Regions from separate parts of the Homo sapiens genome. Here region 2 is linked to region 1. Evidence: fine-mapped expression QTL. Tissue or cell type: tibial artery. Region 1 holds a variant in brackets; the other region holds the start of a gene. All regions are shown on one strand. Distances are from middle to middle.

Evidence for each region. PIP is the estimated chance that this variant, and not a neighbour inherited with it, causes the effect.
Region 2: NYAP2 starts here. The variant in region 1 is fine-mapped to the expression of NYAP2 in tibial artery (GTEx, PIP 0.97).

Annotation. Positions count from the first base shown.
Region 1 is chr2:224,970,947-224,978,946 of GRCh38, forward strand. The region is part of intron 1 of DOCK10 (dedicator of cytokinesis 10); the gene reads right to left. Among named protein-coding and RNA genes, the nearest start is that of MIR4439, 36 kb to the right of the region's middle. The variant C/A (reference allele first, on the strand shown) is at 4,372.
Region 2 is chr2:225,395,438-225,403,571 of GRCh38, forward strand. It overlaps NYAP2 (neuronal tyrosine-phosphorylated phosphoinositide-3-kinase adaptor 2), which reads left to right and starts at 4,273. Exons shown (of 8, transcript NM_001371273.1): 1 at 4,273-4,818; 2 at 5,124-5,606.

The sequences.
Region 1 (8,000 bases):
ATTAAGAGGAGGAAATACCATGTAGTTAAAAAGAATGTGGGTCTCATCATTTTGAGACCTGAACAAATACCCTTGCTCTGCCAGCAACTTTGTAGAAGCTACAGATAAGTCAATTTACCTGTTTGGGCCTGGATTTCATCTTCCAGTGAGGCAGCTGGATTCTATAATATCAAATTTCTAACATTTTATTCTATATAATCTATATTAAAAACCCTGACTTTTAAAGAGAAGTACCATTTGAGCAGAATAATGCCACTGTATTATTGGATATTGAACAGAAAAATGCCACTGCAAGAGATCCCAGACCTGAGTCAACAGAGACACGGAGGGCAGGAAGGTGCAGTGGGAAGAGGGTGTGGTTGGGTTGCAAGAGGGGAGGGGAGGTGGGTGGAGTGAAAGAAGTGGGCATGGCCAGATTGCAGGTGAAGAGAGGAGAGGAGGTGGGTGGAATGGGAGGAATGGGCGCGGTTGCACTGTAGCAGGGTGTGAAGTGAAAGAGGTGGGTGTGGCTGGGCTTGCAGGGAAGGTGGCAGGTACACATTTGCCTAGGGCCACACCGGATGGGTGACTTTGGACAAATGCAGTAATAGCTACACCTCATAGTTCAATGCAGCCACCACTAGCCATAAGTGGCTATGAAGTCCTTGAAAGGTGGTTAGTGTGACAAAGAAACTAAATCTTTAATTTTACTTAATTTTATTTAACTTTGATTTAACTTTAAGAATTGATTATTTTATCTAGTAACTGGAAAACATTTAACTAGTTTTGGAGAAACTTTGGAATATGAATTTACTCTTTCAACTATAAATTTTATGAAATCTGAATACTGAACAAATATTTGTGATTAAAGATTTAGCATCCAAATTGAAATGTGTTATATGTATAAATGTACACCACATTTTGAAGATTTGGCGTGAAAAAAACTATGAAGTATTGTAATAATTTTTATATTGATTACATGCCAACATAATAATAGTTTGGATATATAGGTTTAAAGAAAATATATTATTAAAACTAACTTAATATGCTTTTTTTCTTTTTCAAATATGGCCCCTAGAAAATTCAAAATTACATATGTGGCTTATGTTATATTTCAATTGGTCAGAGCTACTCCGTGTGCTTTAATTTCTTCCTTAACTATATTGGAACAAAAATCACAATATCCTTCAGAGGGACTGTGGCAACAAATAAAGAATACTGTGCAAAGTTTGTAGCAAAGTGACTATCAGAATTGGAAGTGCTCAGCAAAGAACTATTATTTTTGGACATTATTTCCATGTTCACTTCCTCCAATTATTCATAAAGCAGAATTTTAAGGTAATCTGTGGGTTACTCAGTTCTCATAAAGTGTATGAAAGCAAAGAAGGCCCTTGATTACCCAGTGACCAATATTAAGGATGCAGATAATCTACCAAATGAATCCATATTCTTTCCACCTAACAGATTCCTACTTTCTACCTTTATGACCCATAAGATATGGCTTGCATTCATTCATTCATCAAACCTTTGATTGAGTACCTATTGGTAGAAGAATCAAGATGCTGTAATTTTGCATTCTTAAGTTTCTTAATGATTACAAATCTGTAATAAAAAATCTACTCACAATTAAAAACACTGAGATAACTTTAAAATTACAAATGAGATACAATCTATTCTCCATCTCTAAATTAGTAAGTTCAGTTGTACCTACTGAACTTAAAATGCATTCTCTCTCACCTGATTTTCGACTTTTCTTTATGATTGTGGTGGTTTTAAATCCTAAACATTCAAGCTTTTGTTCCTTATAATTTTTAAATTTGGCACAATTTGAGAATGACAAAGTTGAAATTAAATGGTTAATTTCAGTTGTATTAAAGGCTGCAACATTCCTTTAATAAATGATGAAAGGAAAACAGAAGAAACTGAAAGTTAAATTTCGGAAAACTGGCAATTAGTGGATAACACAGAAGAGAACTCAAATAAACTTATGTTCTTTGAATAATCTATTTGTGTGAATAATCTATTCAATAAGTATTTCAGTGCTCTCATAAATAAGCTAACTTTGAATTTCCATTTTTACACATTTTATGAAGCACAAAGTAAGTTTCTGCTTAACAGATTCTTTTTTCTATAACAATTCTTTAAAGTAAATTAAGTTTGTAAATTTTTCTTTGTTTCAATAAGACAATATACACAATAATAATAGCTAAAACTTAGTGAATTCTTAGCAAGTGCCAGGCACTCTTACAGGCCCTTTACTTGAATTCACTCAGTGAATCCTTAAACAACCCTGATAGATAGTATGGTAGGCAGAACAACAGCCCCTTAACAACGTACATGTCCTAATCCCCAGAACCTGTGCCTATGTCATTTACACAGCAGAGGGTAATCCAGGCTGTAGATGGGAATCAGCTAACCTAGAGATGGGAGAGGAGCGTGGATCAGCCAGGTGGGGCCAATGTAATCACAGGGGTCCTTACGAGTGAAAGAGGAAGGTGGGAGAGTCAGAGATCAGAGTCGGAGAGTCGCTGGAAGACACTATGCTTCTGGCTTTGAAGATGAACCAGGACCACAAACCAAGGAATGTGGGCAGCCTCTAGAACTTGGAAAAGGCAAGGAAACAGATTCTCCCCTAGCACCCCGAGAAAGGAATGCAGCTCTGCCAATTTTAGCCCAGTGAGATCCGTTTCAGATTTCTGATCTCCAGAAATGTAATACACGTGTTTTAACTGTAAGACAATATGTGTGTTGTTTAAAACTAAGTTCGTGGTCATTTATTACAGCAGAAATAGGAAACTAAGGCAGATAGGCACCCTCACGACTCTCATTTTACAGACAGGGAAGCCAAGGTATACAGAATTTAAATAGCTGACCCAGAGATCACACTGCCAGCAAGTGCTTTGGCAAGTGACTCAGACCCACACACCCTGGTTCCTCACCCATGGCAATGCAATGTAAATCAGGGCTGGCATGTGGCATTTTCTCATGTGGTTTCTGGGTACAGAGGTTTTTCTGTTTCTTCTTAGCATCTATTTATTCTCCAGGTCTCAGCTGCATTGCCACTGCCTTAGGGGAGGCCTTCCCTGACTGATTTGAGGAGGTGCGATGTCCAAAGGATGCAGTTTTAAGGTAAGGTAGAATGCAATTCTCAGGGAAGTACTTATCATGATTACAATTTTCCATTTGTTTGAGCTCTGTGTCTGCCACCAAACTGTAAGTGCAGGGCAGCAGCAGTCTATTGTCATCTGTGCCTACCAAATGCAAGGTGCAATTGTCTCAGTTGTTTATTGAGTTTCTGATGTTTAGACAATCTAACCATGACAAACTCACTGCATGCAAATTGAATGTATTGGGCATGGTCTTAAAAACTAAAATACGTTCCAGCAGAATGAAATAGATTTGGAAAAATGAATTTCAAAAACCCTAAGCTTTAGCCCCTATCAGAGTAAATCAGTTCCATGAAAATAAAATCTGAGAATAAAACAGCTATCCACAAGAAACTTATTGAAGGCTGACAAAAATACTGTATTTATATCTGGTTTGCCAAAAGACACATTATATCCTCAACTGTATTACTCAGTTTTCACAAAGTTTTATTATATTGAAGCCTGGCGTTTAGAGAAAATCCTAAAAACTACTCTTCTAGAAGGCAAAGAAACAAAACCCCAAACAAGCATACCAGTTTTTTTCTATATTTGATTATGTTTTAAAAATTAACAGACGTTTTATTAGCAGTAATTTGTTGGAGTCTATACTTTTTCTAGCCATAAAACTACATGTTTTTACTTGGTAATATGATGTTTTTCATCTCCACAGTATGATTTCCCCCAAAACACGTACATCCACTAAAGGTATAATGTTCTCTCTATATATATCATATATATTATATATATAATATATATATATTATATATAACATATACACACACGTATATATGAGTATATATACGTGTGTGTGTGATATGTATTTATCTATAGCTCTATCTACATATAGTTGAATTTGCTTTGTTTTTGGTATAAGTTTCTATGTATCACCTCCCCCAATCACCACACCGATACTTGGTTTTCCGATTTTCTTTATCACTGTGTTGGTTTTAGATTTTAAGCTGTTTTGATTTTTCTTTTTAGACACTGTGTATTTTTTCTTTGCTTCTAATCATTTCTAAATTTGGTACAATTTGGAGAATTAAAAAGATGCAAGATTATCTGAACAAGATGATACAGGGCGTAATTGGAGTTTAGTAAGCCTTTACCTCGAAGATTTATGTTGCTAATTACTAAGGCTCTCATTACATTCAATTAATTCTCATACCCAGAGAGAAGCCATTCAATTCATTTGTCCATTTTCTGTGGCTTTGGGATGCAACTCAAAATTAGTTCACAAGGGAAAATA[C/A]CTCCAAAGATTCTATGTGCTTTAAAGCTCCATGTTATACCCATTTATGGTAGACTGTTTAAACTCATACTCCATGACACAGGCTTTCTTTCCCAGGGGAATCTGATAATATTCATATATTCAAGATTCAACCTCACTGAAATGAAATAGAAACATTAGCTCAGGATTTAGAGATTCTGGAAATTGTTTCTTCTTCATACATATACTGAAAAAGATGAAACTGGGCAAAACATGTTAACATTCTTTGATAATAAAACTTTGTTAGGTTAGAATATTTACTATAGGGATAAGAAGAGAGTCAATTTATTTCCTTTGGAGTAGTTTCCATAGTTTCCATAGTATGTCCCTCTCTGGTCCTGATTGTATTCATAGGACACAAATTAAACAAATGTATGTTCCAAAGATATGGAATTACTGTTTTCATAAATAATTCATTTCCTTCATTTAACTTGCTTCCTTATATGAGGTTCTCAAAGTACTTGAGCAGGAAAGAAGAATTATTGTCTTCTACAAGTGGGGGACCCGAATGTGGGGATTTGCTGAAGGTCAAAAAGCAAATCAAGTAGAAGCTTGATAACACCCTCACTGGCCTCTCTTGTTCACTGTACCACCTTTTTTTGGGTGTGGAACAAATACAGTGAAATCCTAATGTAAATCACCTCCCTATATTGCTGAGTGAGTTACCCAGGGGATACAATGAATTCTGACCAGCATACTGTGGATTTCTTATAAGCCATGTGAGCCTGCCGACCTGCAAGACTCCATCGCTTTATAATGTGAATTAGTTTACAATGTGATTCTACGAAAGTCACAGGAACAGAAAACCAAACACCACATGTTCTCACTCATAAGTGGGAGTTGAACAATGAGAACACATGGACACAGGGAGGGGAACATCACACACCAGGGCCTGTTGAGGGGTGGGGGGAAAGGGGAGGGAGAGCATTAGGAAAAACACTTAATGCATGCAGGGCTTAAAACCTAGATGATGGGTTGATAGGTGCAGCAAACCACCATGGCACATGTATACCTGTGTAACAAACCTGCACGTTCTGCACATGCATCCCAGAACTTAAAGTAAAATAATAATAATTTAAAAAGTCAATATTCTGGTGCTTCCAACAGACAGGACAGATAATAGTCCCCATTTAGCCAACTAGGAGAAATGAGTCAGCATGTCTAGGTTATCTGGGCTTTTATTAATATTAAGTGACAGACTTGAGACTCTGACTTGAAATCTAGAGTTTCTCAATCATAGTAGTTCTCAGACCCTCAGGTGAACAACAGGTACCCAGGGAAAAAACCAAGTTCCCTGGTATCTTGTCGGGGATAACAGAAAATACGCTGTAGAGGTCAAAGTTAATTAAAAAAAAAAAAAAAAAGGTTCCTTTGTGGTTGAGGCCACGTCATTCACCAGACAGGGGTCAGTAAGCATTTTCTGTAAATGGTCAGAATACTTTAGGCTTGGTGGGCCATATATGGTCTCTGTATCTTTTGCCCTATGCCACCCTCTTCCTCCTTCTTTTGTTTTTGGTTTTGTTTTGTAACATTTAAAACTGTGAAAATCATTCTTAGCTCAAGCACTGTATGGCTGCAGGCAGATTTTGACCCACAAACTGTATAGTTAATCAGAGTGCTGGACCGAGCAAATTCTGAAGCACCAACAGAGAGGACTTGTCAGGGAGGTCTTGGAGCAGTAACTGCAATTCCCTTACTCAGAAATGTTTGCCATATAAGTGCACACATCCTTGACTCACAGAAGAGATTTCACCTTCCCAACTCACCGCAAATTTAGGCTATTGTTAATTTCCTGCCTTAGACGAAAATTCAAGACAAAGCCATATTTGGCTTGCTGTATATGCTAGATCTTTGGCAGTCCTAAATTTAAATGTTATGGTTTCTACTATTTCAGAGAAACCCCAGAATGTTCATGGATTTTAAAGTTTTTTTTCACTTTTGAGTTGAGACCTGTGAATCTGGTGTGTGGGTATTGGTCATATAACCAAAGTGAGACTAGTAGCCTGACCAACACTTGCTTTTCTTTCTCCTCTTGTGCCACCTCTAAACTCCAAAGTGTGAACAGAAAAACATTCTCTTTCGGGGGAAGGGGAAAGAAAAAGACTTAAAATGAAGCTAACTTCTGGGGTTGGTGATGAGTAAATGACATAGGAAATAATAGACATTAACCAGAAAATAGTAAATCTACATAAATTGAATTAGTGTCTGAGAACTTTAAGAAAATATGCTATAAAGGAAGTAAAAAAAAATTATGAAAGTTTCTGTTAATTCTCCCACCAAAAAGTTTTTTTGAGTGAGAGATAAAATTAAAGCTTTAAAGGAATTTCTTCATTTTTTCCCCGTTAAACTTGACTGCATCGTAACAGGCCATTGTAATGGTCTCAGATGTCAGGATTCATGTGTTTCTTTTAAATAAGAATCTACATTAGTTAATTTTGATATTTAGCAATTTCTCTCCACTTTGGACTATATAGGCTAGACTACAATTATGCCAGCCCAAATCTTATCTCTGCACAAAGATTCAGAACCTAGACCACAGGAATGAGACTCTGATACAACTTCCATTATGAAGTTTTGAATGCCAAAGCCTTCTGAAGGGTATCAATATTCAAAGCCTTGTATTTATCCTGGCAACTTTCTTCATCCTTAACTCACTCTTGGACATTTCAATTAAGAGTTAAGTGGGCATCTTTATCAACTGAATTTTGCATATTAGTGACAACTGCTTAAAAATATCAAATAATCAACAGATCCCTATTTAGCTTCGATGTAAAAGGCTTTGGGCTGGGTACTAATGGAGCAAGAAGGAAGCTTAGAGGCTAGGTGTGGTGGCTCATGCCTGTAATACCAGCACTTTGGGAGGCTGAGGCGAGTGGAACACGAGGTCAGGAGTTCGAGACCAGCCTGGCCCACATGGTGATACCTCGTCTCTATTAAAAATACAAAAAATTAGCAGATGTGGTGGCACGTGCCTGTAATCCCAGCTACTTGGGAGGCTGAGGCAGAAGAATCGCTTGAACCCTGGAAGCGGAGGTTGCAGTGAGCTGAGATTGCACCAACACACTCCAGCCTGGGCAATAGAGCAAGACTCCGTCTCGGAAAAAAAAAAGTAGGCTTACTTTCTGCCTTTGAGGGTCAAGGTCAAAGCAAGGAGAACATTAATTAGGAAGCGATTGCTCTGGTAGATGGAATTTCCTGTCTACCAGTGAGATAAGAAAAATATGTGATCAGCAAGTAAATAAACAATTATACATTCAAGTAAATAGGCAGAGATGTGTTAGAAGGTAATGCGTGATTAACTTTCAAATGGATTTATACACTATAAATATTATAGGAGATTAGAAGAGAGAAAGATCATTTATCAATCGGTTATTGATGTTTACATTGGGCTAGGCTTTACTCCTCTTTATATAGTTCCTTGAAACTCCAGACATATATGCAACTTCCTACTTGACATCTCCATCTATAGACCTAACAGGGATTTCAAACTCAGCATCCTTAGGGTGAGCTTAGATTCTGTCTCCAAACTTTCCACTTCTGTGTTCTTTATCTGAATGGCAACTTGGTTCTTCTGGATATTCAGGCCATAACAAGCACAGTCAACTCTGACA
Region 2 (8,134 bases), 420 kb after region 1:
GTAAAGAGAGGAAGAGTCTCTCTGTCTCTCTACTCTCTCTTCTCTCTCTTCTCTCTCTCTGTCTCTCTCCCCCTCCCTCCTTCCCTCCCTCCCTCCCATGTGAGGACACACAGCCAGAAGGTACAATTTGCAAGCCAGCAAAGAATCCCTGACCAGAAGCCAAATCTGCCAGCACCTTGATCTTGGAGTATCCAAGCTCCAGAACTGTGAAAAATAAAATTCTGTTATTTAAGCCACTCAGTCGATTGTATCTTGTTTTCAAAGCCTGAGTTGACTAAAACAGTATCTTAGAAGAATCTTACTGTTTTCTCTAAATATGATCCTTATGTTCATATATTCAGTTGGTCTTCCTATGGAGCAATTTTATTATTTCTAGTAAGTTTCAAACTGGTTATTTTGCATTTTTAGTTAGAAAAACTATGGAGTCCCTTTGGAAATATTTTTCTTCCTCACTTACTTGGAGTTTAGTTTGGTTACTTGTATATTTAAATTTCCATTTATACTTTTATTTTAAAAAAAGACAATCTCATGTTCATTATATGGATACATTTGAATTTTCTACTTGTGCAGAATATGTCACCAGATGAGATATGTAGTCATGCATTCATTCAATAAATCCCTACCACTGGCTAGATGCAATCAGTAAGCTGGGGCCATGCGAACAGAAAGGAAGGGCTCCACTCTTAAGGACTCTTAGGCAAAAACATTTGAACAATGAAATAGGAATATTTGGTAGAGTATAAAAAATTCATGATTTTATTTTTAATTATACTGGATATTTCATAATACAGAGAGCAAGCATCCAGTTTGAATGTGGTAAATTAGGACAAACTATGAGAGTAAGACATACTTGACTTTTGAAAAGTATAGATATTGTTCATGCAAAGAAGAGAGATGGTTGGTTGGAGTGTGGGTGTGTGATTCACTAGAATATATGGATCCTTGTTTAGAAATATTTTTATCATTTTTAGTATAGCGATGAATACATTGATGGTATTTCTGAAATCTTTACTGGAAAATATCTGTTGGACAAAACAATGGAGGGATGTTTGGATCTATTCCTAAGTCTCTTGCCAGGGGAATATTTCATTTATTGTCAGTTTTCCCCCTTGGCACTGTAAAAGTAGTTTTTTGTGTGTATTATTAGACCATAAATCTTTTACTTTTTCTTTCTGTTTTAGCTACTGAGTATGCTGGATCTTGGAGCACCCATATCACCATTTGCTGCCCCACGACCCCTAAGTCATATGTGCAACTTCTGTCGACATCTACATTGTTATAGGCAAAAATCATGAGGAGCATATGGTTTTCATTCTACCAAGACTTTCATTTCACACTGTTACCAGAAGGGTTAGAAATCCTGATTGGATGGGAAGGAGATTAGCTTTTTCCTTAGTGGAATAATTTCATTTTAACAGAGGGGTCACCTTCCTAAGCTAAATGTGAAAAGAATGATAGAAAGAGTACAGATCATGGAAAAAAAAAAAAAACTAGAAAGGCTTTGTAGTAAATTTTGATATGACTTCAGAGAGTTCATCCTCACTTCATGTATTTGAATAAACCCTTTAAAATTTAGGTAACTAAATTATTCTATTTCAATTCTCACTTTTCTCATTTACGTCACTTTTATACAACAAGCACTTTCCACCATCTGGCTGATGTATAGAATAAGAAGCATTTTCAGGGCGCTGACTCGTCTGGTCTATCCAAGTTCACTGAAGGGACCTATTTAACCCCCAAAGCATCAAACTCTATTAATACAGTGTAACCAAAAGAGCTAAACTCTACCCTGACTAAAGAACTTTAAAAGAAATATCAAGTCATCAGGTATCTCAATGACTTGTTTCTTATTGACATCAATAAGATGTCTATTCAATAGAGTAGAAATAGAATAGAAACATCCATGTATTTTATAAAGATGCACAAGAAATAAACCAATACATGAGTATAATTTGAGCTTTTTAAATATCTCTATACCTTTATTCCCGATATGAGGATTTTTAACTTAAATTTTGTCCAACGCACTTTTCTCCAGATACTATTGAAATGAGTAGAGGTGCGTTCTGCATTTGGCTCTAAGATGATTTGCAAGAGTAAAGATGCTTTGCTGTTTCATTCAGTGAGACCTAAAGTAGTTCTGGGGTCCTTCTCAGCACGATCCTCAAAGGTTCTATAAACTCCTATACACTAATATGTCTCCAGAGAATATATTGCCCTGTCAGTGACATTGACACCTAGAATGAGGAAAGTGTGGGATTGAGAAAATGGGATTGGTAAAATGTGATGATTCTCAAGCCCTATTCTGTAATATAAAGAGAAAAAGAAAGAAAAAGAAAAAGGCAGGGAGGCAGGCAAGTAGGAAGGAAGGAAGGAAGTAAAGAAGGAAAAGAGGAAGGAAAGAAGGAAGGGAGAAAGGGAGGGAGGGATGAAGCAAGGAATGAAGGAAAGAAAGAAGAAACAAAACAAGGAAGGAAAGGGGAGGGAGGAGAGGGAGGAAGGAAGGAAGGAAAGAAAGAAAAAGATATATTTTCCTAAAGTTGAATATATGAAACTTAAAAGACCATCTATTGTTATAAATATGCTTTCTCTATTCTTCTAATATAAAGATTCCTTTTACTTTTTGAATTTTTGTGGTGAGGAAATGGCAGATTCTTCATTTTTTATGCTTGGCAACTGTATGTCAGCCTCTCCTCACTTTGTTTGGATTATTTTGGTGCATGAAATCAAGGGGACTGAGAACCACTGTACTGGCCAAAGATGAGGAGACCTGCAGTCAGCCCAGGGACCTTGGGTCTTAATCCTAATGAGGCAATTAAGTAAGTCAGAAACAAGTAAGTCTGTTTACTTATCTTGGTAGTATTTTTCTTACATATAGAAATGGGCTTTACACTAGAGCTTATTCAAGCTCTCCATAGTTCAAAATATAGACCCCCAGACTGGCAAAATTATCAGTCATGATAAAGTGTTTCCGTTTTCTAAAATGTCTGTCAATAATTTTTTTTTTGTAAAGAACTTTTTCCACCTTTGGTCATGTGCTGAAAGACAACATCTATGAGAACACTTCACTACCAAAATAATGGCACATTAGTAAACCTCTTGATCACAGTGTGGTGGCTGTTACTAGTTTATAAGTGGTGCTTGAGGCACTTTTCAGCAATGTGCTAAGTATTTAGAACCTTCATAAGGCAGAGAGAGAGAGAGAGAGAGGGAAAGGGAGAGCATTGGGATAGGGGGAAGAGAATATGAGAGAGGTCTGGCCTCTTCTCTTCCCCGTTTGTATTTCTCCTCCTTTTCATCTATCTAATCTTGCAGAATCCTTCTTAAAATTAAACAGATGTCCTGTTCTAACCAAAAGCTAGATACACAAAGACCAAGAAATAAGTGATGAGCTTCAGGAATGCACTTCAGGACATGTAAAATAGAAAAGCTTTATAGTAATGTAATGTGTTGATTTTATTTTTCCCCAGATACTTACAAGTTAAAGAAATATAATTTAAGAAAATTACAGCACAGTCTCAGGTGACATTTAAGAATTAGACAGGTGAACTTGTTTATTTTTGTGGTCTGTCAATGCATTAAAAACTAAATTCAGAAAACTATTTTCTAAGACTTTGGTTATGAATATAGACGTTAAAAAACACTCTTGGGAAAACCAACCTGCAAGTGAAGGTCATTTACAGTGAGTTACTGAAAAAGAATGTGAGGGGAAAAATCTATAGGTCACTATCAAGTAATAAGCACATCCCCTCCCATCAAAATTGCTTTTTAAGCTCATATCCATCAGAAACATATTATATATTATTCCTTTTATCATAGTGCAAAATTAATAGATTAAAACATGTACATTTTAGTTTTTACTGAGGAGGAGCCAGTATGAGAAAAACTTTGAGCTTAATAAATACAAATACACACAAACACACATATATAAGTTGTGGTATATAATGTGATATATATGTATATATTCAGTAGAGTATTAAGAACAGAATGAGGAGAGTCTTTGGGAAATATCAGAAATAGAATGACTTTAATTTTAACAATGAGTCTATAGGAATTAATGACATACATATCATAATTATTTTGCATCTTATTTTAGTTAAAAAAATGTGCAGTCCGAGTAAGACCTTTGTTCCACACACGTGTGTGCTGTGCATATTCTTTCTAAGTGGACTAGTTTTGTTCTCATGCCATGGGAGCAGGTGGCATGAAGCTGTTTTGATGAGGTTAAAAGGCTCCTCCCCTCTCTCCCCAAGCAGCAGCCTGAAGTACGTCAGCAGTAATTGTGTGCATGGCTCGGCTGTGCAGGGAGGGTGGAGGCAAAATTGATATCAAATAAGGGTATCAAACTGAGATCTAGATGTTCCATTTAAGTTGTTGTTCATTTTCATTAGCCACGCCAGGGGTGAAATGCTTATAACTTAACCATTCTCTGTAGTAAGAACATTTGTTTTCAATGGATTTATATTTTTCCTCTCCATAAAGACTGAATTAGTGCTATAGTGAATATAAATGAAGGGTGTTTCTTTACCCTCTTTTCCTTTTATTATTTACTAATCAGACTTCAGCTCAGTTAGATAAAAGAGAGAGGTTCTGTTGCCTAGATGTGAGGCCTTTAATGAGGATGGGAGCCCCCAGGGAGCCGAAATCCAAAGTAGAACGATGCCGCTTTCCGGTTTCTTGCAATTTCTTCAGTTGCTTCTCCCTTTTCCAATGGGCCTAGTGAGCAGGAACTATCCAAGGTGCTAGAACGCTGGCAGCCTTGCCGTTCAATGCAGACGGATTGCAGAAACAGAGAAGAAAGATTACTGCTTATTTCAGAAGGTAGGTTCTTTGTTTCAGAATCCCTGATTAATCAGCAGCAGCTTCAACAGACTAAGGCAGCTGGAGAGGAGAAAGAGAAGCAGGAAGGGAGGGAGTCAGGGGCAGGGAGGGAGGGAGGGAGTGGAGGGAGAGAGAATGAGAGAGAGAGAGCTGGTTGTCACGGGGGAGGGACTATGCCACAAGCTGGGCTGCTCCAAACCTTCTGTATGTAAGTGGCAATGAGAAAGAGCATCTTTTTGGCTGAAAGGAGACATTTAGAAAGGATGTTTCTGATTTTTTGTTTTCATTTATTTTTGTCTTCGCAGAATATAATCAAATGAGGTACATTAGCCAGCTTGGTGATTGCTTCTGGTCCTGTAATCATCTGTGTAGCAAAGTGGGTAAAATCATTCAATTTCTTCCCTGCTGGACCTGGAAGGAGAGGGGCTGTGTGTTCATCCCCACCCATTAGCTATGCCCTCTTTTCTCCGAATGTCGATTTAAGGAAGCAAGCACCTGTCTTCCGCCACTGCATCTTCCTAGCAAACTTTAAAGGCCATTTTATCTGATAGGAAGGACATCGAGAATGCTCTGATCTAGTGATGAAGAATCTGGGAGTCGACACTTTTCCCATCCAGACACAATGCACTTTAATTGAAGAAACACTGAGCTGAACTACAAGTCTATTTCTTATGGTGCTGGATTACTCCTACAGAACTGCCCTGAGATCAACCGTGAGAGAGGGCTCTGACAGACACAAGTCACCTTCTGGTTATTGCACTTAGCTCTCCCTGGGGACTTAAATTTTGGTATGTATCTCATTTTTCAGATTCTCTAAGCATGCTAATCGAATCCAGCACTGAATAGATCAAGCAATCTGGTGATAAAATGGAATGGATTTTAGTTAGGGATACTTAATGCTGAAGTTTGCATGCCTTATTAGGTGGAGCAGAAATAAAGCCACAGTGAAGGCATCCAGGGCTTTAGTGAGCCTGAGGCTATTTTTACTCCCTTACCCACTTAGTTACATTACCATGGAAATGGTTAAACTAGATTTTCATTAGTAAAATAAGCCATGTTGAATTATTAAAGCTTTGAAAATGTTTTCCAGGGTATTAATTGGCATTCAAGTTGTGCATGCTAGCTATTTATCCGCTATTCCATACCATAAATATTTTACAACTGTCTCTTAGCACATTTATGTCAGCAGTGAGAGCCCAATTTTACATTCTCAGGAGAAAAGACACAGTATCCCCCAAAATTCAAAACTACCAGACAAACAGCAAAGCCGACACTGCTTCTTCCTGACTGATTAGACATAAACCTCTTTGAGAAACATTTTTTAATACTATTCAATGTCAGAAAGATTTTATTAGTCTCATCACAATAAATATTTTCTGTAAAACTTTAGGTGGACTTGTTTTACTTGGGACATGTTCTTATTTTGTTGGGGTGTCTCCATCCTAATTTTTCCAACTACTCAGCAATATTTTAAATACAAGACATGTGAGTATTTCATATCTGGAAAAACTATTACATAAAATAATATTTTTCACTATCATTGGGAAATACTAAAGTTCTTTTGGTACCATAGAATTGGATTTTTTTTTCTAAATATAGCCGAAAAATAATGAAATTCTGAAAAGCTTACATGATGTAGTTTTAGTCATTTTAACATCCAAGCATTTATAACCAAGTAGTGTGGAATAACAAATATAGAGAAAGAGTGAAAATTAACTCTCTTCCTAATTCTTCACATTTTAGACAATGTTCTCATTTATTTTATATATTGTCAAGCACTAATTACACAAATTAATGAGAAAATGTGGTCCACAAATGCAGAAATTATTTTGTTTTCCTATGGAAAGTGCAACATACATGAGCCAACTCAGCAAAGAAAGGGACTATGTGAAGGACATAGACAGTTTAGAGAATTAGTGGAAACAGACCAGAGGAAAATATTACAACTGCACAAGGGACAGTGGAGAAGCCTGAGGACTTGAAGCATCTGTCAAGTTTAGAAAGAGAAGTGTAAAAATCCTAGACACAAGAAGGTTGGTTATTGTTTAAAAAAATAAATAAATTATAGACTCCCAATTCAATTAGATGGTTCCCACTGTAGCTCCAGTCAGCAATTTATTAGACTGACTACATCTACTTTGCAAATAATGCCTTGTAAGCATCTGGAACCATTTGGCCCAAGCCTCCAAAAAGTATCTCAGCCACTGGCATTTTGCATGAGTCTCCAATATTAATGGAAATGTACAATCTCTTTACACCATGGGCAAACAGCACCATGACAACCTGGAAGATGAGGGGGAGATACCAATTCATGATGCTACTGCATTAACACGATTTATGCCTATCTTACTCATTTTGGGAAGAGAGATAGTGGAGAAAAACTCACTGCAAAGTAATCTGCTTTCTGAGAAAAAAGCAATCAGTGTCTTTGTAGTCACTTTAGCAAGCTTTCTTGGTTGTAGCTTCAACATTTCCCATTTTGGGCAGAACAGCTGCATTTTGATGACACTGAGAATGAGAAAATGAGTGTGACCATTTGTGGGGTAGGGAGTAGGATTTCAAGCATAATCAAAGTGAAATTATAGGAGTAATGCTTGACAAATTATAAGATTTTATCAGAAAAAAATTTTGACATGGTTTACATGTGTTATGGGTTATAACCAGGCTAGTCTGATGATTTGGTCCTATGTGAAGTCAGCAAATTTTAAATATTAATTTGCATATGTATTTTACATATGTATCAGAAGCCTGATTATTTAAATCCTTACATTTTCATACACAATGTGTTTTCAAATTGGTTTGAGTACATGCAAAAGTTGTAAAAGATTTTTTTCTCCTGCTAAACAAAAACAACAAAAAATAGTCAAAATTGCCTTGGGAAACTTTTATTGGATCAATACTACTAGAAAAAAAGTAGGATTCTCTACCTCAAAGAAGATGCAATGATTGGAGTAGGAAGGAAACTCAAATCTTAATAACTCAAATTCTAATAACTTCCTCACAGCATTGAGACAGGTGTGGTTTAAAGAGCTCAGAAATATATAAAGGTGGAGACTAGAAAACTTTACCCTCTGCAAATAAAATAAAAACACAAATGTGAAGTACAATAAAAGTAAAATATTTAGGTTTCCATCAGGACATTTGTTCCATTCTATGTATTGTGTTCTTCTGGCTGGTCACAATTAGCATTATAATAATCGCACAAAATAAACTATCTTATTATAGCTATAAGATTATCTTGTAGGATTAACTGTGGCCTAAAATTAAGGAAGCTTCTCATAGAGCTTCAGGTATTAAGATTAGGAAGCCATTCTTT